Homo sapiens: one gene and its partners. The protein of the gene in region 3 purifies or fractionates together with the protein of the main gene of each other region. This does not show direct contact. Each region holds a gene or a part of one and is shown on either strand. Other genes may lie near its edges.

Region 1 (3,500 bases), on a different chromosome or scaffold from region 3:
ATTTGGGGGAGGACACAATTCAGCCCATAACAATAGCAAAGTTAAATAATTTAATTAAGGTCTCATAGCTGGTATGATGGATGAATGGAATTCAGACCCAGGTGTCTTTCAGTCTAAAGGTTATTCTCAGAATGCTACACTACAACCCTTTGACTCCTAGAGATGTACCCCAAAACTAGTTAGAGCTGTTTCCCCAAAGACTAAGAGATGTAGAGAAAACAATTTTACTATCTAGTTATGTGAAAGCTATAATTTTAATTTAATTTTTTGAGACAAGGTCTCCATCTATCGCCCAGGCTGAACTGCAGTGACGCGTTCATAATTTGAGAATAACACCAAGAAGAGAAAATGTAGAAACTGAAAACGCTGAACTCTAATGACACTGCTTTTTGGCTAAGTAGACTATAGTTGGCATTTGAATTTAAGAAGATAAAGAACAGTACATATAAGTAGAAAATAGGAAAAAAAGATGTCAGAGGAGGAACAAATGCTTAGCGGGTTACTACAGGAGGGTGCTAAAAGAATAATAATTGATATTTTATTAAGTAGGCATAGCAATAAGTCATAAGTGTCTTGAAATATAGTATCTGTTATTGTTTTATGAATGCAATTAATATAATAGTTTTGATAACACTGAATGCATATAAACATCACAAATTTCCAGATACATATATGAGCTTCAGATACAGAACTTCGAAATAAAGCTTTATGTATAGGTTAGTCACTCTTCCAACAAAATTATTGAGCACTTCATACATAGCAGGCTCTGTGCTAGGTCCTGTCAAAGGAGGGACTCTTAAGACCTTTGAGAGTTTCTGAGTTTAGTACTGAAACATAGCCAATCCGTGGAAGAAGTTCTATTTCTTGTAGTCCTTCACGTCAGTAATATAACTCACAATATGTGCATTTACCACCAAATTTCTTTAGCCATGTGAAAATAAGTTTAAAATGAATAATTATTATCTTGTCGTATTAAATTACCTATTATGTGAAACCTATAACTTTATTTATTTATTTATTTATTTATTTATTTATTTATTGAGATAAGATCTCGCTTTATTGCCCAAACTGAACTGCAGTAGCACATTCATAGCTCACTGCAACCTCAAACTTCTGGGCTCAAGTGATGCTCCTGCCTCAGCCTCCCAAGCAGCTGGGACTACAGGTGCGAGCCACTACACCCAGTTAATTTTTAAATTTTTTCATAGAGATGGGATCTCGCTATGTTGCCAGGACTGGTTTTGAACTTCTGGCCTCAAGTGATCCTCCTGCCTCAGCCTCCCAAAGTGCTGGGATTATAGGCGTATACCACCATGTCCAGCTGAAACCTCTATAACTTTAAAGAATGGAGTTTTATGATGAAACTAAGTGATTGTTTGCATTATAATTTTATCATAACTATTTTTTTTAAATTGAGAGGATTTTTACCGTAGTTTTATTCTGAAATGAAGTCAGTAACTTCGTTCAAGTGCCATAGTGTTATTATGGTTTATGTGTATGCTTTTTGTTTTTTCCTCCTTGTGGATAGAATGTGCTCTTTAAATCTTTTTTTTTTTTAGTTGTATTTTATAGCTATATTTGGAGCTGTGTAATGTAATGCACATCCTGCCTGAGATAACATCTTTTCTCTGTATTCTCTTTTTTTGCATAGGTAAAAATAAGTGACTAAAGAAGCAGACCTGGGAATCACCTAACATGTCGAGGAGGAGATTTGATTGCCGAAGTATTTCAGGCCTACTAACTACAACTCCTCAAATTCCAATAAAAATGGAAAACTTTAATAATTTCTATATACTTACATCTAAAGAGCTAGGGAGGTAAGAAAACCATATGACGTGTATGCCATCTAAATTCAAATTTTGGATTTGTGTTTTTATAATTCTATAAAACTCACTTGGGATCATTATTTAACAATGATTAGGAAGGAAAGTTGTGATCTCTGTTGCTGTTACCTAGGGTCCAGTCTTAACTGACTTGAAAATCAAATCTGTGGAGGGTTTAGTGAACTTAAATCATACATCCTACCTAGCCTCAGAGCCTCTGATAGGAGGTCTCTGTCGTTACATGAGGCTGTGCATGGGAAGAGGCAGCTCAGCATAGTGGACTGCCGAGTTCAAGTTTGGACTCCACCAGTTACTAGGTGTGTGACTTCAACTAAATAACTGTACCTCTTTTTTTAATTTTTGTTTGTGGCGGGGTCTCACTCTGTTGCTCAAGCTGGAGTGCAGTGACATGATCTTGGCTCACTGCAACCTCCTGTCTCCTGGGCTCAAGGGATCTGCCACCTCAGCCTCCTAAGTAGCTGGGACTACAGGCACACACCACCACACTGGGCTGGTTTTTTGTAGAGACAGGGTTTCTCCATGTTGCCCAGGCTGGTCTCCAACTCCTGGGTTCAAGCAATCCTCTGGCCGTGGCCTCCCAAAGTGCTGAGATAATTGGTGTGAGCCCCTGCGCCCTGCCTACTGTACCTCTTAGTGCTGTCGTTTCCTCATCTGAAAAGTAGGGGTGAAGATAATTGTGTCTGTCTTATATGGTTGTTATGAGGATTAAGTTAGTTAATATTTGTAAAGTGCCTAGTACAGTGCTCTGTAAGTTTTTGTTAAATGAAATATTTTTTTAAATTCCTAGGGTATTGTGCTTGGCTTAAAAAAAAAAAAAAAAGAAGAAGAAGAAGAAATAGGGAGATTCTCCCCCTCTCCTAAGTTGAACAAAAAGAATGAATTCATATTTCATAGTCTGATTCTATGTCACAACAAATGAGTGGTTTATAAGTAAAAAGCCTTTACAAATTGTTTTCTCTTAACCAGTGTATAAACTCTGTACGGCCAAGGAGTGACATGATATTATGAAACCATTCTGTACTACCATTTTAATATATGAAAAGTTATAAAAGATATACCAAGTTATTTAAGTTATATATTCAGCATCTTTTGAGCTTTAAATTAAAGGTGCTTAATGAAGGGTTGGAAGATGGTAGTCATCATGTATTTTCAGTTTGATTTTAGTTCTGGAGGTAAATGTTTTGTTGTATGTTAAATGGTTTACTAAGTCCATATTTGTGTTGATAAATGTGCAGCAAAACAATGTGATTGATTTTTGTCTTTGAAAATCTCGATGTGAGAAGAAAAGTTGACTGAATCATGAAAAGTAATTTCATTCTTGGTGGCCTTTTACCTTAAGGGCAGAGGCAAGTCCTGGCTTTTTCACGTTGCAGATGTTGGATGCAGCCTTTCTTTTGCAAAATAAGAATTATAATATCTGGCCAGGTGTGGTGACTCACGCCTGTAATCCCAGCATTTTGGGAGGCCGAGGAGGGTGGGTCACGAGGTCAGGAGTTCGAGACCACCCTTGCCAACATAGTGAAACCCTGTGTCTACTAAAAATACAAAATTAGCCAGGCATGGTGGCGTGTGCCTGTAGTCCCAGCTACTCAGGAGGCTGAGGCAGAAGAATCACTTGAACCCGGCAGGTGGAGGTTGCAGTGAGCCGATATCATG
Region 2 (3,500 bases), on a different chromosome or scaffold from region 3:
GGAAACAAGACTGTGAGAGCCACACATTGGCTATCCTTAGGTGAATCTAGGAAGTGTGTGCTTATATAAAGATGTAGATGCCGAGGCTCAGGATGGAATTTGGGGATCCCTGTGTCTCATTCATGATGGAGATGGGGTGGAGGATGAAAACCAAATCCTCTGGGTGTTCCAGGCAGGTGGATCACTTGAGCTCAGGAGTTTGAGACCAGCCTGGGAAACATGGCAAAACCCCGTCTTTACAAAAAAATACACACACACACACACAAATTAGCCGGGTGTAATGATGCATGCCTATAGTCTCAGCTACTCAGGAGGCTGAGGTGGGAGGATCGCTTGAGCCTGGGAGGTGGAGGTTACAGTGAGTTGTGATCGTGCCACTGCACTCCAGCCTGGACGACAGAGCCAGACCCTGTCTCAAAAAATAAAAATAAATAAAAATAAATAAATATTAAAAAAAAAAGAAAGAAGATGCAGACCTGAACTAAGGCAGGTACAGTGTGGGTTGTGAACAGGGGTGGACTGTCAAGATGTTTAAGTGTAGAACTGTGAAACTGTCTGGATGTGAGGTGGAGAGGGAGGGCTTAGGTTAGCTAGATGGTGGAAGCAGTGCCTTCCCCTGAATTGGGGAAACACCAGAAAAGAACCAGTTTGCAGAGCAGTGTGTTGAATGTTTGGTCCCAGAGGGAGTGGCCAGCAGGCAGTCAGACATACAGGCTTGGAGCTCTGGGAGGCCAAGTGAGGAGTTACACACTAAGGACTCATTGCTGAAGGGGGGTGTCAGTGGTGTGGGTCAGAGAATTGTGACTATGTGTACAGTGAGAAGAGCAGAGAACCTGAAATGGTGCCAGGGAGACCACTGACTTTAGGATCAGGGAAGAGCCAGGGAGGGAGAATGGGAAGGAGTGGCCAGAGAGTTTGGAGGCAACCCAGGAGGGTGGTAATAGCTGCAGAAGTTTGATGCACAGCGCACACTGAGGAAGGAGGATGCTTTCAGGATGAAAATGGCTTTTATAGCTCGTAGATTGACAGCACTGGTCTCCTGCCTCCAGACTGGGCAGGGACAGTCATCAATGCCCAGGCAGAAGTGGGCAAGTGGGCAAGGTCTTCATGTGCCCCTCTCTGGGGTCAGGGCTGACGACCTCCCTCCCTGTGCCTTCCTCTGATTCCCCTCTCTCCCTGTGTCTCCCCATCTCTCCAGTCACCTCACTGCCCTGTCCCTGTCCTTTCCCCTAGCTTGGATCAGGGAGGAGGGCCGCTGCTCCAGCAGTGACGATGACACCGACGTGGACATGGAGGGTCTGCGGAGACGGCGGGGCCGGGAGGCCGGCCCACCTCAGCCCATGGTGCCCCTGGCTGTGGAGAACCAGGCTGGGGGTGAGGGTGCAGGCGGGGAGCTGGGCATCTCCCTCAACATGTGCCTCCTTGGGGCCCTGGTTCTGCTTGGCCTGGGGGTCCTCCTCTTCTCAGGTGAGTGGTACCTCTGAGGCTGGGGCTTTGGGCTTCCATGCCTGCCTGCCTTCCTGCCATGTTCTCACCTTACCTCACATCACCCCTCCCCGAGGGCCTCATCAGACTCCTCTGTCTCTGTCCTTAGGTGGCCTCTCAGAGTCTGAGACTGGTGAGTAGGGAGGAGCCTGTCTTGTGCTGGGGAGTTGTATGTGTTCTCTGGTTCTGTGGGTCAGGAGTAGGGGTGCTGGGGGCTCACATTTATTTCTCAGTTAGTGGCCTTGTCAGCTGTTCAGGGTGCCCCTTGGCCCTTTATCTCACCAAACCGCTCAGCCACAGGGTGGGTCCTGAGCAGGAGTGGTGGCTGTGTGAATGGGAAGGTGTGGGGAGAATGGGCTCTGTGTGCCTCAGGACCAGTTTCAGGGTTTCCCTTTCCCACAGGGCCCATGGAGGAAGTGGAGCGGCAGGTCCTCCCAGACCCCGAGGTGCTGGAAGCTGTGGGGGACAGGCAGGTATGTGTGAATGTCTCCAGAGGCAGGTGGGGCCTGGCTGGGGAGAACCTGGGCTGTGGGGTAGCATGGCATAACAGGCTCTTCTGCCCTCAGGATGGGCTAAGGGAACAGCTGCAGGCCCCAGTGCCTCCTGACAGTGTCCCCAGCCTGCAAAACATGGGTCTTCTGCTGGACAAGCTGGCCAAGGAGAACCAGGACATCCGGCTGCTGCAGGCCCAGCTGCAGGTGGGCACAGGCAGGAGGGGCTGGGCTAGGGTAACCCACCTAGGCCAGGCGTCTGTCCTAGCATCCTCCCCCAAAAGGAATGTTTCCTATTTACCCACACATCCTGACCCTCCCCTCTCCCACTATAGTCAGGGCGTCTTCCCAGTTCTTGGTTCACATCCCTTGTGCTAAGGTTTGGGCCAGGGCTGGCATACCTGTTCCACATGGTACATGAAACATACATGGTATCACCTGTGATTGATTGGTGTGGTCTGCCTGGAGCACTGTGTGGAAAAGGATTTAAAGAACATGCCAGGTGCCATGATCAGTTAACACTGTTCCAGGAAATAAGACTGTGAGAGCCACACATTGGCTATCCTTAGGTGAATCTAGGAAGTGTGTGCTTATATAAAGATGTAGATGCCGAGGCTCAGGATGGAATTTGGGGATCCCTGTGTCTCATTCATGATGGAGATGGGGTGGAGGATGAAAACCAAATCCTCTGGGTGTTCCAGGCTGTAAAACGGGCTCAGGCCACCTGCCCACTATAATAGAATGGAATTGGGGTAGAAGGCATTGGGGCTATCCTGACAAGAACTCTTTGTGACTTCCTTTGTCCCAAACCATATTCTAGGCCCAAAAGGAAGAGCTTCAGAGCCTGATGCACCAGCCCAAAGGGCTAGAGGAGGAGAATGCCCAGCTCCGGGGGGCTCTGCAGCAGGGCGAAGCCTTCCAGCGGGCTCTGGAGTCAGAGCTGCAGCAGCTGCGGGCCCGGCTCCAGGGGCTGGAGGCCGACTGTGTCCGGGGCCCAGATGGGGTGTGCCTCAGTGGGGGTAGAGGCCCACAGGGTGACAAGGCCATCAGGGAGCAAGGCCCCAGGGAGCAGGAGCCAGAACTCAGCTTCCTGAAGCAGAAGGAACAGCTGGAGGCTGAGGCACAGGCATTAAGGCAAGAGTTAGAGAGGCAGCGACGGCTGCTGGGGTCTGTACAGCAGGATCTGGAGAGGAGCTTGCAGGATGCCAGCCGCGGGGACCCAGCTCATGCTGGCTTGGCTGAGCTGGGCCACAGATTGGCCCAGAAACTGCAGGGCCTGGAGAACTGGGGCCAGGACCCTGGGGTCTCTGCCAATGCCTCAAAGGCCTGGCACCAGAAGTCCCACTTCCAGAATTCTAGGGAGTGGAGTGGAAAGGAAAAGTGGTGGGATGGGCAGAGAGACCGGAAGGCTGAGCACTGGAAACATAAGAAGGAAGAATCTGGCCGGGAAAGGAAGAAGAACTGGGGAGGTCAGGAGGACAGGGAGCCAGCAGGAAGGTGGAAGGAGGGCAGGCCAAGGGTGGA
Region 3 (3,500 bases):
AGATCCCTGTGGTAGTCAGTGTGAGATAGGTTGGAAGGGTTCTAACCAACAAGGACGCTATGGTGCTAGTCAAAGAAAGATGATGGGTGCCAGGTGCAGTGGCTCACGCCTGTAATCCCAGCACTTTGGGAAGCCGAGTCAGGCGGATCACCTGAGGCCAGGAGTTCGAGACCAGCCTGGCCAACATGGTGAAACCCTGTCTCTACTAAAAAATACAAAAATTAGCTGGGCGTGGTGGCGGGTGTCTGTAATCCCAGCTACTCAGGACGCTGAGGCAGGAAAATCGCCTGAACTCGGGAGGTGGAGGTTGCAGTGAGCCAAGATCGCACCACTGCACTCCAGCCTGGGCAACAAGAGCAAAACTCCATCTCAAAAGAGACAAAAACAAAAGCAAAAACAAACAAAAAAGGAAGATGATGAGGTGGACGACCCCAGCTCAGCCCCTCACACCCAAAACGTGCCCTACGGACCAGAGCGATGCAATTGCCCCTCTCCTCCAGCAGAGGGAGACTCCACCCACAGCACAGGGCAGGGTTGGGGCCTGAATGATAGAGGAGAGTGGAGGTGGGAAGGGTTGGTGGAGGGGCCAACAAGGAATCTTGGTCCCCTGACCCTGGGTGCTGCACATCCATCCCCTAGATGCCAAAAATGTTGCTTACCAATTCGCTGCTCCCCAGAGACCAACCCCAAACCTAACCTTGACCACCACCTCTTCCTGCGCCATTACTTCCAGTTCACAGGTCTGTCCCCAGAGGGTGCTCTGATTTTACCCACATCACAAGAAAGTGATGAATGGGCTGGGCGCAGTGGCTCACGCCTGTGATCCCAGCACTGGGAGGCCGAGGTGGGCGGATCACCTGAGGTCAGGAGTTGGAGACCAGCCTGGCCAACATGGTGAAACCCTGTCTCTACAAAAATACGAAAATTAACCGGGCGCGGTGGCGCACGCCTGTAATCCCAGCTACTCAGGAGGCTGAGGCAGAAGAATTGCTTGAGCCTGGGAGGCAGAGGCTGCAGTGAGCCAAGATCATGCCATTGCACTCCAGCCTGGGCGACAGAGTGAGACTCCGTCTCAAAAAAAAAAAAAAAAAAAGAAAAGTGATAGCTGAAGGTGGGCCTTCTGTAAGAAAGTAACAGGCGCAAACATCCAGGACCCTCCCAGTGACTGTCTGCAGGTAGGGATCCATGTGGAGCTCACTTTTCTTGACCCCCTCCCAGGAACGTGGTCCTGGTATGGGACACAATTTTCCAGGTTTTAACAAAAGTCACCCCTGGGTCCCAATGGACTCCTCCAGTGGGGCTGTCTTGTGTGCACAGGGAGAGGAATGAGGGAAGAGGCTGCCAGAAACCTGGGAAAGGGACCTGCCGGGATGGGCACTGACCACTCCCATGGCTCTCAAAAACTCCAGAAGGACCACGGGGCAGTGTAGACTCAGGACGCCTTTCCCTGCCCTCAGTCCCTGTGTCTCCTCCCCTGTGAGCCGCTCCCGGCCCCACTGAAGGGCCACCTCTAAGGAAGAGTCACAGGGCTGCCTTCCCTGCCTCTCAGCCTTTCAGTCGGGTGGTTCTCAGCCAGCTGGGATTTTGCTCCATCACAACTGCAGGGGAGGGTGCCCCTAACATCTAGTGGGTAGAAACCGGGAATGCTCTTAAACATCCTACAATGGGCTGGGCGCGGTGGCTCACGCCCATAATCCCAGCACTTGGGGAGGCCAATGCCGGAGGATTGCCTGAGCCCAGGGGTTCAAGATCAGCCTGGCCAACATAGTGAGACCCCATTTCTACAAAAAATTTAAAAATTAGCCACAGGTGGTGGTGCACCTGCAGCCCTGGCTAGTGGGGAGGCTGAGGTGGGAGGATCGCTTGAGCCCAGGAGTTCAAGACTGCAGTGAGCCATGATCATGCCACTGCACTCCAGCCTGGGCAACAGAGCAAAAACCCTGTCTCTGAAATCAACATCCTCAGGGTCTGGGAAAATATAGTATCGACCAGAAAAGTGTGAAATATGAAATAGAAAACAAACAAAAACCTCCTACGACACCCAGCACAGCCCTCTGTGCATTGTGGAATGTTTAAGGGCATGTCCAAGGATGTGTGTAAGACCACAACACAGAATTCTCCCACCCAAAAAGTCAGCAGCACCCAGGCTAAGAAACTGTCTGCAGCCTAATCCTGCCCCCTTTTTTTTTTTTTTTTTTTTTTTTTTGGAGATGGAGTTTTGCTCTTGTTGTCCAGGCTGGGGTGCAGTTGTGTGATCTGGGCTCACCGCAACCTCCTCCTCCCGGGTTCAAGCGATTCTCCTGCCTCAGCCTCCTGAGCAGCTGGGATTACAAGCATGTGCCACCACACCTGGCTAATTTTTGTATTTTTAGTAGAGGCAGGGTTTCTCCATGTTGGTCAGGCTGGTCTCGAACTCACAACCTCAGGTGATCCGCCACCTCACCCTCCCAAAGCACTGGGATTACAGGTGTGAGTCACTGCGCCCGGCCTAATCCTGCCCTCTTTTAGCAGAAGTAGAGATAGAGACTTTAGAAGTTCAGGGACTCACCTGGGATCCCAGGGATATCCCAGCCACGCCTCGGCTGGGGACTGACCTAAACCCATGCACAGCTGCAGAGCTACCAGCACATGCCTCCCTGGCTCTGGAAAGAGACTCGGGCTGTCACTGCTACCTGAGGACAGCTGGCAGAGCGTGAAATCCCAGAAAGCCCTCTTTTCCCACGCCTATTCTGATCTTGCCAGCTCTGGTTCTTTCTGGGGGCACTGGGACACGGTCCTCCTGAACAGCAGCCTCCCCCTCCCTGCCAGTGCGGCCGCCGGGGAGAGGGTGGGACGCGGGGAGGGAGGGGAGGTACTCCCAGCACCCATGAGCGCCACCCCAGAGCCCACGTTGATGATGGTGGGAATGATGCTGAACTTCCCTGCCTGGAAGATAGAGACAAGGCCAGTGAGCGAGGCAGGTTGGACAGCGGGGCCCCCAGGGACCCTCCCAGCGTCCCCCTCCCAGCCTGAGAACAGGAGAACGCACAGCGGGGCCCCCAGGGACCCTCCCAACGTCCCCCTCCCAGCCTGAGAACAGGAGAACGCACAGCGGGGCCCCCAGGGACCCTCCCAACGTCCCCCGCCCCCCGCCCAGCCTGAGAACAGGAGAACACACAGCGGGGCCCCCAGGGACCCTCCCAACGTCCCCCGCCCCCCCGCCCAGCCTCAGAACAGGAGAACGCACAGCGGGGCCCCCAGGGACCCTCCCAACGTCCCCCGCCCCCCGCCCAGCCTGAGAACAGGAGAACACACAGCGGGGCCCCCAGGGACCCTCCCAACGTCCCCCTCCCAGCCTGAGAACAGGAGAACGCACAGCGGGGCCCCCAGGGACCCTCCCAACGTCCCCCGCCCCCCGCCCAGCCTCAGAACAGGAGAACGCACAGCGGGGCCCCCAGGGACCCTCCCAACGTCCCCCGCCCCCCGCCCAGCCTCAGAACAGGAGAACGCACAGCGGGGCC
Region 4 (3,500 bases), on a different chromosome or scaffold from region 3:
TACTGTATGATTCCACTTACATGAGGTACCAAGAATAGTCACATTCATAGAGACAGAAAGTAGAATGGTGGTTGCCAGGGATTGGGGCGGGGAGCAAATGGGCACCTATTTTGTTTAGTGGGCATAGATTTAGTTTTACAAGATGAAAAAGTTTTGAAGATGGATGATGGTGATGGTTGCACAACAATGTCAATGTATGTAATACCACTGAACTGCACACTTAAAAATGGTTAAAATGACTGGGCACGGTAGCTCATGCCTGTAATCCCAGCTACTTGGGAGGCTGAGGAGGCAAGATAGCTTGAGCCTGGGAGTTTAAGGCTGCAGTGAGCTATGATCGCACCACTGCACTCCAACCTGGGCAACAGAACAAGACCCTGTCTCAGAAAAAAAAAAAACGTTAAAATGCTAAATTTATGTTTTGAATGTTTTGCCACAAAAAAAAAAAAATCTATAAAACCTACTTTCCATTTCCTCCATAAACATCAGTGCAATCAATCACTGTAAAAGAATGCTGAAGAAATATCTGAAAAACTTTGGAAAAACTATTGTAATTAGAAAATATAGTAGTACCCTGATAATTTTACATCCTAAATCAAACTATCAACTTTGGCCCAAGGCCTGGCAAGACAAGAAACTAATCAAAATATGGAGAAATGCCACCACATAACAGACTACCATGGCAACAGAAATACTGTCACAAAATCACAAACATAGACTCCAATACTTCAAAGACATGAAATGTTCTATATTTGTACCGTACAGTACTTGGAATGTGGGTAAGTGCAAATAAGAAACTGATTTTAGGCCGGGCGCAGTGGCTCATGCCTGTAATCCCAGCACTCTGGGAGGCTGAGGTGGGTGGATCACGAGATCAGGAGATTGAGACCATTCTGGCTAACACAGTGAAACCCCATCTCCACTAACAATACAAAAAATTAGCCAGGCATGGTGGCATGCACCTGTAATCCCAGTTACTCGGGAGCCTGAGGCAGAATTGCTTGAACCCGGGAGGTGGAGGTTGCAGTGAGCCAAGATTGCACCACTGCACTCCAGCCTGAGTGACAGAGTGAGACTCCGTCTCAAAAAAAAAAAAAAAAAAAAAAGAAACTGATTTTAACTTTTACTTAATTTTAAGTTTAAATAGTCACACTAGACTGGTGGCTACTACACTGGATGACACAGCTACATTGGTACACTCTCTGGGAGAAAGATCTTTGGTTTTCATTATTTACATACTCCCAGTTTCTATCAGTGCAAGGCACAGAGTATTCCTAGACTGAACTCATCTACTGAAGTTGTATAGGAATATTTTCTATTTTCTAGAAGGCTTTCCTTTCAAAAGCATGTTTTGACTGGAAGGTGCAAGCATAAGCACACACAAAAAATGCCTAAACTTTCAAGATAAATCAGTAATGACCAGAGAAAAGCCAAAAACCCTAGGTTTTATAACCAGGCTAAAGAATCAATAAATTCCAAAAAGGAAAAGTACTAGCAAAGAAGTTTGAAGCTGATATTCCATGACCCATGTATTAATGTGTTCTCACACTGCTAATAAAGACATACCCAAGCCTGGGTAATTTATAAAGGAAAGGGGTTTAACTGACTCAGTTTCACATAGCTGGGGAGGCTTCACAATTATGGCGGAAGACGAAGGAAGAGCAAAGCGACGTCTTACATGGCGGCAGGCAAGAGAGAGCTTGTGGAGGGGAACTCACATTTATAAAACCATCAGAACTTGTGAGACTTATTCACTACCACAAGAACAGTATGAGGGAACCCCCCATCATGATTCAATTACCTCTACCTGGCCCCACCTTGCCACAAATCGGGGGGTATTATTACAAGGTGAGATGTGGGTGGGGACATAGCCAAACCATATCAACCCAAGACCTTTCTGATATGATATCTAAGAAGAAAATTCCTATGGACATGTGATAAACCAAACATGACAATGCCAACTTAGTCTATCAAAGCATGACTTTACTTCATCTGCTTTGTGCTTTTGATGCTTTCCATCAAAAAGCTGCATACACCCATGCTGAAGCATGCCTATTCAGTTTCCATACTGAACTATAAAACTTTTGAGGTAATATCTAACCCAAAGATTGTCTCTGTAAAAGTTATCTCCTACTTACAACTTAAATTAAAAACTTATAACTGAGTCGCTTAAGTAATTGGCCCTATGAAGAGATGGTCTTTCCTTCAATAGCTCTCTACAACTTCTACTAATTTTGGTTAGTAGGGGTGGACAAATGAAACTACTAAATATACAGGACAGGCTACTAAGATTCCTTTAAGATCTGCCTCAAAATACTCTCTTTCAGAACACTTTGAAGTTATCAGTGATATCTATCTATCACATAAAACAACCATGGCTGTACATCTCCAAAAATTTTGGTGGAAGTTTAGAGCAATGAATACAGATTCTTCAGAAAATGGCTGTTTTATACAAATATTAGAGAAAGAGAAAAGATGCTAACTCACAGTACAGGCTAAAGCATATTCAAATTATACCTCTATACCACGTCTACTGTCACCAGGTCATTCGAACTATACTCAATTACTCTCGGATTAGTTAGGTGGGGTGGTAGAGAAGAATAAGGATAATAGTTTCACAAATACATATTCTTGAAAGTAGTTTTTTAGCAAACCACACAAATTCTATGCCTTACCAATTTCAAATGGATGTTAAAACACTATAGTTATTACTACAGTTAAAACACGCTTTTGTTCCAGTAGACAAAATCTTCCGGAAAGAAAAAAACCACCACACACATTACTTTTGGTTACAAATGCCATTTAGTGACCACTTAAAGAGAGCCTTGGCCAGGCACAGTGACTCATGTCTGTAATCCTAGCACTTTGGGAGTCTGAGGTGAGAGAAGTGCTTGAGCCCAGGGGCTTGAGACCAGCCTGGGCAACATGGCAAGACCCTGACTCTACAAAAAATACAAAACATTAGCCAGGTATGGTGGTGCATGCCTGTAGTCCCAGCTGTCCAAGAGGCTGAGGTGGGAAGATCACCTGAACCCAGGCTCAGGTGAGCAAGGCTGCAGTGAGCAGTAATCACACCTCTGCGCTCCACAGCCTGGGTAACAGAGTGAGACCCTGTCTCAAAAAACTAAATAAATAGACCAGGTGCAGTGGCTCACACCTCTAATCCCAGCACTTTGGGAGGCCAAGGCGGCCAGATCACTTAAGGCCAGGAGTTTGAGACAAACCTGGCCAACATGGCAAAACCCCAATCTCTACTAAAAATACAAAAATTAGCCGGGCATGGTGGCATGTGCCTGTAGTCCCAGCTACTTGGGAGGCTGAGGCAAGAGAATTGCTTGAACCCAGGAGGCGGAGGTTGCAGTGAGCCAAGATGGTGCCACTGCACTCCGGCCTGGGCAACAGAGTGAGACTCTGTCTCAAAAAATAAATAAACAAAGAGAGCCTTATTGAGTCAAAAAGTTCCTCTCCCTTTCTGTACCTGAATATTTGCAAGTATGAAA
Region 5 (4,042 bases), 1.7 Mb from region 3:
AGACCATCCTGGCTAACACGGGGAAATACTACTCTCTACTAAAAATACAAAAAATTAGCCGGGCCTGGTGGCAGGCACCTGTAGTCCCAGCTAAGGCAGGAGAATGGGGTGAACCCGGGAGGCGGAGCTTGCAGTGAGCCGAGATCACGCCGCTGCACTCCAGCCTGGGCAACAGAGCGAGACACCATCTCAAAAATAAATAAATAAATAAAATAAAAACCCTTTGCTTGTAAGCCATCAGGAAGTTTAGGTCTTAAGCTTTAGCTGCCCAGTCTCCCTGCTTGGTGCCTTACAATAAATGCTTGTTCTCTCCCTGCAAATCTCCATGTCAGTGTTTGGCTTTTGCTTTGTGTGGATGGGAAGACCCAAGTTGAGTTTGGTAACAAGACCCAGCTAAGCTGTTAACTCCACCAAGTTTAAGGGCCAGATCCAGACACCAAGGGGGTTGGCCCAGCTTTCGTTCTCACTGAATTCATCCTGAAGGTAGAGACAATTCATTAAGCCAGAAGGTAACCGGTATAATTTCCATGTTGTGAAATCACTGGGAATCGAAGACTTGAGCCCATGAATAGAATATGGCTCACCTTCTTCCTCAGGAGAACAGAGGTGACACCAGGGGCTAAGGGGCAAAGAATGAGTCTGAGTCCATATACTGCTCCCTGATAGAGAACAGCCCTGCGGAAAACCTAAGAGTCAGTCTAGCCAGCCCAGCCAGCCTGGGAGAATGTCCCCCCTCTCCCACCTCCTGAGGACACCTTGAAGTTTTGAGCTTCTAGATATGAGGTCTATAAGCAAACCGTTAAACATGAATACTAACTTAAAAGACTGCCCTCCTGACTCAGAACCCCACTGACTGTGGCCACACTGTTCGTTCTTTCACGCTTACCTCTCCTCATTTAAAAGGGAAATAAACATCATACATTTAACTGACTTAGCTGTCCCATTGCTCCTCCTTACTCTTAAACCAGGAAGGATGGAAAGAACACTTGAGTCAGGGTGGTGGACGTACCAGTAAGGACAGAAAAGTGACCTTGTCCCTTAGAGACCAGCAGTCTAGTGGGGGAAAAGACAGGTATACACATAATTACAACTCCTGGAGTAAAGGGGAAACCGTAGCCCTTAGCAAACTGCAACTCTTACTCTGGTCTCATCCTACTCCTAAGTAGGATAAAAAATAATAAGCTGAATAAACAATTCATCTTATTATTTTTTAAGGCAGGGTCTCACTCCATCACCCAGGCTGGAGTGCAGGGGTGCAATCATGGTCCACTGCGGCCTCGACGTCCTGGGCTCAAACGATAATCCTCCCACCTCAGCCTCCCCAGTAGCTAGGACCACAGGCATGTGCCAAGACGCAGGGCTAATTTTTTTTTTTTTTTTTTTTTTTGAGACAGAGTCTCACTCTGTCTGTTGGCCAGGCTGGAGTGCAGTGGTGCAATCTCGGCTCACTGCAACCTCAGCCTCTCGGACTCAAGCAATTCTCCTGCCTCAGCCTCCCGAGTAGCTGGGATTACAGGCGTGTGCTACCACACGCGGCTAATTTTTGTATTTTTAGTAGAGACAGGGTTTCCACCATGTTGGCCAGGCTGGTCTCAAACTCCTGACCTCAGGTAATCCGCCCGCCTCAGCCTCCCAGAGTGCTGGGATTACAGGTGTAAGCCACCGTGCCCGGCCACGCACGGCTATTTTTTATTTTTTTGTGCATACAGGGTCCCCCTATGTTTCCCAGACTGGTGTGGAATTCCTGGGCTCACACAATCCTCCTTAGCCTCCCAAAGTGCTCAGACTAAAGGTGTAAGCCACTATGCCCTGCCCCGACAATTAAGCTTAGTTCAACCCCGTTATCTCTTCAGGAGCCACAGAGTCTGAGGATATGAAAAGGCAAGAAATTAACTTATTCAACGAATATGTATTGAGACTGTGCTATGTGCCACAACTTCTGCTAGGGCCCCACACTATGATAGGAGGGACCCGCCCAGACATGAGGCTTCACCCACTGTGTGGGCGGCGGTGGGGATGGTCCAGCGGAGGCTGGGGCCCTGAGATCAGATTTGAACGTTACCACTGCTATGGTTTTTGGCCAGTTGTTTCAAAAGCCTTGGACAATCAGCCTAGGCTTCCTAGGCCCATTACAGATCCTCCTCTGACAGGTCCCTAGTGGTCGCTGGCGTGTAAGGAACTGCTAACATTAGCCCTTCAATGTGTCCCAGGGACCAGTAGGCACCTCCTCCTTTATCACGTGGCTATGATATGTTTACATTAACATTCCCCCAGTAGACTGAGATCTCTGATTCTAGTACCTGCACCCAGCGCAGGCCTGGCATTCGGTGGGCGCTCAGTTAATGCCTGGCGAATGAAACCTTTTGCCTCTTCCCTGAAAGCATTCCCTGAGGGCGCACTCGTAAAATGCCCGCTGCATCTGGCCTGGCCCTTTCCCTCCCCGTCGAGTCCATTTTATCCGTCTACCCGCCAAGACAAGGCTGTAGTTTCCGATTGGAGGATTAAGGGCTGCTCTCGGTCGTGCCCTAAAGCTGCAAAAGACTGGTACCCCTGGGCTCCGGCTGACAGCGACCCCGAGCTGGTGACAGCGGCCCAAGGCGACTAACAGCGGGATCTAGCGGAGAAAGGCGCCGCCGCCGTTAAAGGGGGTTGGTCCTGTCCCTAACTTGGGGGCCCCGCCCCGAGATGCGAGGTCTGGAGGGCGCAGCGTTCCAGCACCCACCTCTGCCAGGGCCGTCTCGGCCGCCCTGCTCCGCTGCCCCGGATACGACCAGCGCCGCCATCACCTGCCTGCGCATGTGGTACTAAAAAGACAGCGCTGGAAGAACGCGGAGAGCGCAGACATTGCGATCGATCGCCGATCGGCCAGCGGGGGCGGGGGATACCCGCTGGGCGGGGCCATAAAGGAGGAGATAGGGGCGGGGCTGTAGTGGGCTCCACCCCAGCCCAGAATGCCGGGACTCAGGATTCCCTAGAGGTCCCCGACTATGCAGTTGCCCTTGCCCTGCGACTTAGTCTCCCACTCCTCTCCCCGGCCGGGCACGAGCCTGGCACTCCCGGACCGGTGCTCTCCTATGTGCGAACTCCCTGCACGAACTCTGCAGGCCGAGTCTTGTGAAGGGGACACCCACCAGATGTTCCTTGAGCCCCCCCTGCCAGTCTCCCCTCCTGGTAAGCAGTGGTCGGTCACCCGGCCGCCGTGTGGGGCCACGTTCCCTACCTAGGGGGACTCTACTGTCCGGCAGGACAGAACTCAGGGACCACCAGCCCAGCTCCAAGTTGAGAGTCTTGGTGCAGGTTTGTGGATCGCCCTTATCAGCTTTTTAAATTATTTTTTTTGAGACAGGGTCTTGGTCTGTCGCCCAGGCTGGAGTGCAGTGGTGCGATCATGGTTCACAGCAGTCTCAACCTTCTGGGCTCAATTCATCTTCCTGCCTCAGCCCCCTGAGTACCCGGGACCACAGGCGTACGTTCAGCTAATTTTTTTTTTTTTTTTTTTTTTTTTTTTTAGTAGAGATAAGGTTTCACTATTTTGCTCAGGCTGGTCTTGAACCTCTGGACTCAAGCAATCCTCCCACTTTGGCCTCCCAAAGTGCTGGGATTACAGGCGCGAGCCACTGCACCCAGCCTTTATCACCTTTAGAATCCACTGCGTAGACCCTGTAGAAACTGCCCCTCTGGGGAAGGCCCACAGCCTGAGGGTGCTTTCCTGGGAAGGTGGGCAGTGGAGGACTGTGATGTCTAACCCTTCTGGACCCTGGCCAACCTTTGCCCTGCCCCTCAGGGCTGGTCTTTCTCCTGATCACTGGCCAGAGCCCCAGAGACCCCAAAGAGAAGACAGCCAGTGAGACGGCTTTGACCTGTGGAAGAGCAAAGTACCTGCAGGACTGGCCCTCAGCAGTCTGTCCCGTGGAACAATGGTCTTCCAGGTCTGACGGTCTACCCAGCCCCCTGGCATCCTCCTCCTCTCTCTGCGGTGGTGCTGTGATCACAGCTGGCCCTTTAAGTCAGCTCTGTGTCCTCGGGCTCCCCCAGAGGCCCT
Region 6 (3,500 bases), on a different chromosome or scaffold from region 3:
ACGCGGCGGCCCCAAAGTCTGGCCCAGGAACACGAGGGCCAGCTCCAGGCCCTGGGCGCGGACCTCCCAGTCCAGGTCTCGGCTCGCCGCCTGCAGCACAGTGGCCACGAACTGCTCCGTGTCCTGGGCCGCGTCGGCGTGGCCGTCCCGCAGCCACTCAGTGAAGACTTGCATGACCGCCCGCCGTGGGAAGCCCTCCGAGTCTACGGAGAGGATGTGCAGGAGCTCCAGGAACAGGCTCTGGGGGACAGGGAGCAAGTGCGGATGGTTGGTGGGGTGGCAGGAGCGAGGCTCCCGCAACAGGACTCCGGTACATGATGGGGGCTGGCCCCGGACATGCAGTCTAGGGCCACAGCCCGCTCTGACACCTTCCCATGCTGCGCAGTGAGCACACGGCCCTCCAATCCTCAGTTTACCCATCTGTCAAATGGAGGTAACCATGTCTAAGTGGAGGGGTGCTGGGGAGACAGAAGGCGAAGCGCACAGGTCCCACACCCAGCACAGCCCCAGGGCCTCGGCAGTCACTGCTGCAGGCGCTGCCCACAGCAGCAGCTGCTCCCACGCTGCATGCTGGCCGCTCGACCACCCGCAAGCAAACGAGCACACACGATGGCCAGGCGGGAGTTGCTGGCTGAGGAACCTGCCACCTCCTACCTGCCGGGCCTCTGCATGCTCAGGGCTGGTGGGGGCGTGCAGGCCCTGGCTGGACAGCTGCCCCATGGCGGTCACTGCACTCGCTCGGACATAACTCTCAGGGTCCTGGAGGAGCTGCAGGGCCAGCTGAGGCACCTCTGAAGCCAAGAGTGCGCATCTGAAGTCAGCCTGTCCTGGGGGTCGAAACGGCCACATGCAGCTGTGACTGAGGGCCGAGCCTTGTCGCCTCGGCCTCTGCCTCCATCCCCTTGTGGGCAGCCGACATGGCCCAAGTTTCTAGAGCCAGCAAGAGGCTGCTGGTGCACCCTGGCTCAGTGAGCCCCCCACAGGCGGGGAAGGCAGCCCCTCCACCTGCCAGCACTCACCTCCCCAGTGCCTGCTCAGCTGGGTCAGGAACTCGAGGGCGGAGTCCCTCACCTCCCAGCAGGGGTGGCACAGGCGTTTCTGCAGCACAGGGAACAGCTCTAGGGTGGGAAGGGACAGGTCAGGGTGACCTTGGGGCCAGGCTCACCCTGCCCTCAGAGCCAGCTGAGCCATTCCACCCAGCCCCTGCTGCCTCCACCCCTGCGACTCCAGCTCCGTTCACCCCTGCAAGGGGCTGCGTTACCTCTGAGGAACTGCGGGATGAGGGGGCCGAGATCAGAGCAGCCGGGGGTCTTGGGTGAGCTCAGGAGCCACCTGAGCGTGGCCTGGAAGGCCTTCTTCAGAACCTGGAGCAGATAGGGTGGGCTGCAGGGCCACGGGAGACGGAGGGGCAGGCTGTCTGTCTGTCCCCCTCGCCTTCACCTGTGCTGCCCGTACTCCAGGGACAGCAATGGGGACAGGAAGTGGAGAGAGAAGGGAACGCTGGGCTTCCTTCTTTTTTAGAGACAGGGTCTCAATGTGTCATCCAGGCTGGACTGCAATCACAGTTCACTGCAGCCTCCACCTCCCAGGCTCAAACAGTCCTCCTGCCTCAGCCTCATGAGTAGCTGGGGCTAGAGGCACACATCACCACGCCTGGCTAATTTTTGCAGTCAAATGCTCTACCCCTGAGCTATACTCCTGGGGCTAATTTTTCTATTTTTTTGTAGAGATGGGATCTTGCTATGTTGCCCAGGCTGGCCTCAAAAGTCCTGGGCTCCATTGATCCCCCCACCTCGGCCCCCCAACGCACAGTAATCACAGCTGTGAGCCCCACGCCCCTCCTGGGCTGATTTTAATAGGGCAGAATATGCTGCAGAACCGGCTTCCCAGACTGTGAGCAGGAGGAGGTGGTGGCAGCCCTCACCAGAAGACCCACAACCCAGGCAACGGGATTTCTACATCAAAACATGACCAATTACGCAGGGCACCTTTTCCTTAGGATCCCAAGAAGCCCTGGGCCCTTCCTCCAAAGTTGTCTGCTGTCTGCTCAGCGGCAGGTGGCACAAGGTCTGTACCTGCCAGGGCCCAGCTCCGTGAGGGGCTGTGGAGTAGGCACATTCACAAATGGCGCTTAGGAGAACCCAAAGCCCACGCCCAGGGCCGTCTTGGTGCCACCTCATTTCCCTTGTCCAGAATTCCCCGCAGGCCGCCTGACCAGTGCCCCTGCTCCCCACGGCCCCACACACCCCTGCGTGCTGATGTATCTTCACCAACAAGAGGCCCTGGGCCCGCCCCATGCAGCCACCTGCATCGTGAAGCTCTCTGAGCAGCAGCTCTGTGGCCCTGTGTGAAGGCCCCATCCGCAGAGGCCTGCACGGGACGGGGTGGAGTCAGGGGTGGGTCCCACTGCCTCTGCCTCCCTCCTCTCCTCGCTCTCTATCCCCACCACCGTACCGTGGGGCTGGAGCCGGGGCTCTCGAGGCACTCCAGGAGGACAGCAAGCGCCTGCGTCACCAGCTCCTGGGGGCCTGAGACAGAGGTGAGTGGATAAACCACCCCCACCCCCACCCTAGGACCCTCCCCATCAACTCTGGGAAGGAGCAGAACAAGGCCTCATCCGCCAGCTGAAACCTCCTGCACGGCCCCTGCACCCCTCAGCCCCCACCCCAGAGAAGAAACAGAGAGGGACAGCAGTTCCCGGGTGCCTCCGAGCAGAAAGGAGAGTGGGGGCACAGGGATAGCCCCACGCCAAAGCCGTACAGAACACACTCACCTGTCCCCTGTGACAGCGTCCCCAGGAAGTCGAGGGCTGCTCGCTGGACCCGGACGCAGCCCGCCAGGGTCCCACAGAGGTGGCCCCCCACACTGGAGGCAGGGGCAGCCGAGCCGTCACAGAGCCGCAGGACAGTCACTGTAGCCCCCAGTAGAGACGCCTGGGGCCACGGTGAAGGGCGCTGGGGCTGCGAGGAAGAGGGCCGTCAGCCAAGGTTGCGGTCCCACTGCCGGCGTGGATGCAGGGGTGCTGGGACTTCGAGGCATGTGGGGCGGGGGACATCAGCCAAGGTTGTGGTCCCACTGCTGGCGTGGATGCAAGGGTGCTGGGGCAGCAAGGGGTGGGGGGCGTCAGCCTACGTTGCGGTCCCACCGCCAGCGTGGATGCTGCTGGGCTGCATGAGGACCGGGCCGCACCTACCAGCGGCTGCAGCTCCTCCAGGTGAGCCAGGGTGCGGCACAGGAGGCCGGCGCAGGACGACTTGGAGGCCAGGAGTGTGTCCACCGTCGTGGCATCGTCTGCCGTCCCGTCCAGCAAGCCTGGGGGCCAAGCCAGGAAGAGCTCCCTTAGAGAGCACTTCAGCCTCCCCACGGTCACCAGCCACCCCACGGTCACCACCCACAGCACAGGCCAGGACCTAGGTGCAGAGCAGCAGCTCACCAGGGGAGATGGCCATGTCCCCGGTCCCCTTTGCTCTTGGAGGGAGGCCTGGGTGTGATTAAAGTGG
Region 7 (3,500 bases), on a different chromosome or scaffold from region 3:
ATAGCTGGGACTACAGGCGCCTGCCACCATGCCCGGCTAACTTTTTTTATTTTTAGTAGAGACGGGGTTTCACCGTGTTAGCCAGGATGGTCTCGATCTCCTGACCTCATGATCTCCTCGGTGGCCTCCCAAAGTGCTGGGATTACAGGCGTGAGCCATCGCGCCCGGCCACTATTTTTTTTGAGATCGACTTTGCTTGTCACCCAGGTTGGAGTGCAATGGCATGATCTCGGCTCACTGCAACCTCTGCCTCCAGGTTCAAGTGGATCTCCTACCTCAGCCTCCGGAGTAGCCGGGATTACAGGTGCCCACCACCACGCCTGGCTAATTTTTGTATTTTTAGTGAAACGGGGTTTCACCATGTTGGCGAGGCTGATCTCGAACTCCTGACCTCAGGTGATCCACCCACCTTGGCCTCCCAAAGTGCTGGGATTATAGGCGTGAGCCACCTTGCTCGGCCAACAATTTTTTTTTTTTTTTGAGACTCAGTCTCGCTCTGTCGCCAGGCTGGAGTGCAGTGGCGCAATCTCGGCTCACTGCAACCTCTGCCTTCCGGGTTCAAGTGATTCTCCTGCTTCAGCCTCCCGAATAGGTGGGACTACAGGCGCCCGCCACCATGCCTGGCTAACTTTTTTATTTTAAGTAGAGACGGGGCTTCACTGTGTTGGCCAGGATGGTCTTGATCTCTTGACCTCGTGATCCACCCACCTCGGCCTCCCAAAGTGCTGGGATTACAGGCGTGAGCCACCATGCCTGGCCAACAATTTTTTTTTTTTTTTTTTTTTTGAGACAGAGTCTTGCTCTGTCACCCAGGCTGGAGTGCAGTGGCCCAATCTCGGCTCACTGTAAGCTCTGCCTTCCCAGGTTCACGCCATTCTCCTGCCTCAGCCTCCTGAGTAGCTGGGACTACAGGCACCTGCCACCATGCCCGGCTAATTTTTGTATTTTTAGTAGAGATGGGGTTTCACCATGTTAGCCAGGATGGTCTCGACCTCCTGACCTCGTGATCTGCCTGCTTCGGCCCCCCAAAGTGCTGGAATTACAGGCGTGAGCCACCGCACCTGGCCAACAATTTTTTTTTAAGAGACAGGATCTCGCTGGGTCTGGTGGCTCACGCCTGTAATCCCAACACTTTGGGAGGCCCAGGTGGGAGAATCGCTTGAATCTGGGAGGCAAAGGCTGCAGTGAACCGAGATCACACCACTGCACTCCAGCCTGGGCAACAGGGCCAGACCATATCAAATAAATAAATCAATAAACAAACAAACAAACAAACAGCTGAGCATGGTAGCGCATGCCTGTGGTCCCAGCTACTTGGAGGGGTGCTGAGGTAGGAGGATCACTTGAACCTATAAGGTCAAGGCTGCAGTGAACTGTGACTGTGCCACTGTACTCCAACCTGAGTGACAGAGTGGGACCTTGTCTTAAAAAATAAAAAAGAGAGAGAGAGAGAGACAGGGTCTCACTCTGTTGCTCAGCTGGAGTGCAGTGGCACTATCCTGGCTGACTACAGCCTTAAACTCCTGGGCTCAAGTGATTTTCCTGCTTCAACCTCCCAAAGTGCTAGGATTACAGGCTTGAGCCACCACGCCTGGCTAAAAACAATCCTTAACTTGACTGTAAAGGTTTAACAACATCGTAGGGTCTTGGCTTAAAGCAGATTTTCTGGACTCTGTTTCTTACCAAGTTTCTCTTCTCCTTCCTCCTCCTCATCTCCCTTGTCCTTTTCCTCTTCCTTCTCTTCTTCCTCTTCCTTCACATCCGGTTGAGGTGCATCAGTTTTCTTATACTCCATACCACTGGTCTGTTTCTGAAATGTTCCCCAAAGTACAATTTTGTTTACATGTTCATGTATTATGTTATATAATTCCTGAATGCCTACAGGCAAAGTTCTGTTCCAGGCTGTATACAGGGATAGATATACAGAAACGAATAGGATGTAATTCCTACCCTGAAGAGCGTGTATGTACGTGTGTGTATGCACATGTGCTTGTGTGTTTCAAGGTAGAACAATAAAAACAAAAGGGCCAGGCAGGAAAATAAAGGTCAAAAAAGTCAAGGTGACTGAGGCACCGATACACAGAATAGTGGCAGAGGCTGAGGCTGGAAAAGGAACTTGGGATCCAGTTACAAAGTGCTATGAATGCCAGATGAAGCATAATCCTCATTTAGCAGAAGTAGAGTCCAAAATAAGACTTTCTTTTTTTATGATAGCATGCAAAAAAAAAAAGGCTAAACAAGAAAAACTAACAATAAGGCTGTGGTACCCCAACATACTGTTTTGAGAGTGGGGAAGGTGAAGGCAGAATGGATAATGAGGAATCAAAGACTGAATTACAAAGAATAGAAATAGCTATGCCAGCAGGCAAAGCTGATTATTGCCCAAGTGGCTAGTTTGGTATCTAAGTTTATTGTTTTTTTTTAGAAAGTTGCTGCCGAACACTATGGAGAGTAACAGATTAGGATAAATAATAATAGCAACCAAGGGGCTATAAATCCTGCTCCCATCTGGGCACAATAAACGGCCACTGAGGAACAGTAAGTAAGGTTTCTGAAGTCAACACCAAACATGGCTTGGTCATTACTGAGCCACTACAAAGAAAACCTCAGGCAACATATCTTAGTTATTTTTAATAATCACTAGAGTGATGTCTCTAAAATTGATTCTAAAAAAAAAAACTTCCTACCTTTCCAGAACAGCAGAAGAGGATAACCAGGAACACAGGAAGGGCTACAGTTAGAATATAGACTACCCACAGCCACGGGCGCTCTTCAGCTGCCTCGATCATCTGCCCCACAACGCCTGGCTGAAAAACAAGACAGGGCTGATTGAAAGTTCCAGCTTTTGACACCAAACATAGGCCGTGCTGTTTTTCTGCAGTTCAGTTATGGCATGGCACTACGCAGGACCTTCTTTTTCAGAGAAAATGCTCATAAAATGTAAAAAAGAAATTAGAGAAAGCCTCCATCCTCTTGCTCTCCTTATAATCAAGATGATTTCACTCTCATAGGTGCAAAAGCTGGCTTCTACATCACCTGCAAAAGGCTCCCTTAACCTCAGGATCCAGTGAATTTCTTATCTCAGTATCCCTGGCTCTCCAATTCTTAAATCGGCCACATGACCAGTTGTTTGAAAATTCTGTATGTAGTGTAAACCGAGATTCAACATATAAGAGTGTATTAAAATATAGCCTAAATGACAAATTTCGAAATATATACCCAGACAAATAATAAAAAAAAAACCCTGAACACAAACAGACTCTAAAGCCACTACATTAGACTAATGAAATCATGCCCCAAAACCCAATATTGTGTCTTTTGCAGGCATATGGTTATACTTTTTATGCCAATATTGCCAAATGAAGAAAAAAAACCTTAACACAGACTTTCACAAAATAACAGCTCCTTACAATAACAGACACAAATGCACAAGCAGCAAACACGAACCTCAGCAGCCCCATCAGCAGCTTTCTTCAGGCCCCATCCATCATTGGCCCAAT

What was found.
Region 1: the proteins of P2RX5 (region 3) and STK17B purify together in Homo sapiens (affinity purification with mass spectrometry; 2 studies listed by BioGRID and IntAct, with this or other methods). This does not show direct contact.
Region 2: the proteins of P2RX5 (region 3) and PBXIP1 purify together in Homo sapiens (affinity purification with mass spectrometry; 2 studies listed by BioGRID and IntAct, with this or other methods). This does not show direct contact.
Region 4: the proteins of P2RX5 (region 3) and TNPO3 purify together in Homo sapiens (affinity purification with mass spectrometry; 2 studies listed by BioGRID and IntAct, with this or other methods). This does not show direct contact.
Region 5: the proteins of P2RX5 (region 3) and DPH1 purify together in Homo sapiens (affinity purification with mass spectrometry; 2 studies listed by BioGRID and IntAct, with this or other methods). This does not show direct contact.
Region 6: the proteins of P2RX5 (region 3) and BRAT1 purify together in Homo sapiens (affinity purification with mass spectrometry; 2 studies listed by BioGRID and IntAct, with this or other methods). This does not show direct contact.
Region 7: the proteins of P2RX5 (region 3) and CANX purify together in Homo sapiens (affinity purification with mass spectrometry; 2 studies listed by BioGRID and IntAct, with this or other methods). This does not show direct contact.

Annotation. Positions count from the first base shown.
Region 1 is NC_000002.12:196,161,579-196,165,078, reverse strand, and holds part of STK17B (serine/threonine-protein kinase 17B), read left to right. Parts: intron 1-1,651; 5' UTR 1,652-1,695; coding exon 1,696-1,817; intron 1,818-3,500. UniProt on the Homo sapiens protein: Phosphorylates myosin light chains. Acts as a positive regulator of apoptosis.
Region 2 is NC_000001.11:154,946,100-154,949,599, reverse strand, and holds part of PBXIP1 (pre-B-cell leukemia transcription factor-interacting protein 1), read left to right. Parts: intron 1-1,233; coding exon 1,234-1,467; intron 1,468-1,594; coding exon 1,595-1,618; intron 1,619-1,887; coding exon 1,888-1,958; intron 1,959-2,051; coding exon 2,052-2,183; intron 2,184-2,796; coding exon 2,797-3,500. UniProt on the Homo sapiens protein: Regulator of pre-B-cell leukemia transcription factors (BPXs) function. Inhibits the binding of PBX1-HOX complex to DNA and blocks the transcriptional activity of E2A-PBX1.
Region 3 is NC_000017.11:3,682,656-3,686,155, forward strand, and holds part of P2RX5 (P2X purinoceptor 5), read right to left. Parts: intron 1-3,500.
Region 4 is NC_000007.14:129,045,112-129,048,611, forward strand, and holds part of TNPO3 (transportin-3), read right to left. Parts: intron 1-3,500. UniProt on the Homo sapiens protein: Importin, which transports target proteins into the nucleus. Specifically mediates the nuclear import of splicing factor serine/arginine (SR) proteins, such as RBM4, SFRS1 and SFRS2, by recognizing phosphorylated SR domains.
Region 5 is NC_000017.11:2,028,911-2,032,952, reverse strand, and holds the start of DPH1 (2-(3-amino-3-carboxypropyl)histidine synthase subunit 1), read right to left. Parts: upstream 2,801-4,042; 5' UTR 2,799-2,800; coding exon of another isoform or gene 2,784-2,798; coding exon 2,723-2,783; intron 1-2,722. UniProt on the Homo sapiens protein: Catalyzes the first step of diphthamide biosynthesis, a post-translational modification of histidine which occurs in elongation factor 2.
Region 6 is NC_000007.14:2,538,525-2,542,024, forward strand, and holds part of BRAT1 (integrator complex assembly factor BRAT1), read right to left. Parts: intron 3,313-3,500; coding exon 3,194-3,312; intron 2,961-3,193; coding exon 2,774-2,960; intron 2,529-2,773; coding exon 2,455-2,528; intron 2,371-2,454; coding exon of another isoform or gene 2,247-2,370; intron 1,384-2,246; coding exon of another isoform or gene 1,365-1,383; coding exon 1,262-1,364; intron 1,119-1,261; coding exon 1,020-1,118; intron 828-1,019; coding exon 655-827; intron 421-654; coding exon of another isoform or gene 241-420; coding exon 1-240. UniProt on the Homo sapiens protein: Component of a multiprotein complex required for the assembly of the RNA endonuclease module of the integrator complex.
Region 7 is NC_000005.10:179,722,967-179,726,466, reverse strand, and holds part of CANX (calnexin isoform d precursor), read right to left. Parts: coding exon 3,448-3,500; intron 2,808-3,447; coding exon 2,688-2,807; intron 1,811-2,687; coding exon 1,684-1,810; intron 1-1,683. UniProt on the Homo sapiens protein: Calcium-binding protein that interacts with newly synthesized monoglucosylated glycoproteins in the endoplasmic reticulum. It may act in assisting protein assembly and/or in the retention within the ER of unassembled protein subunits.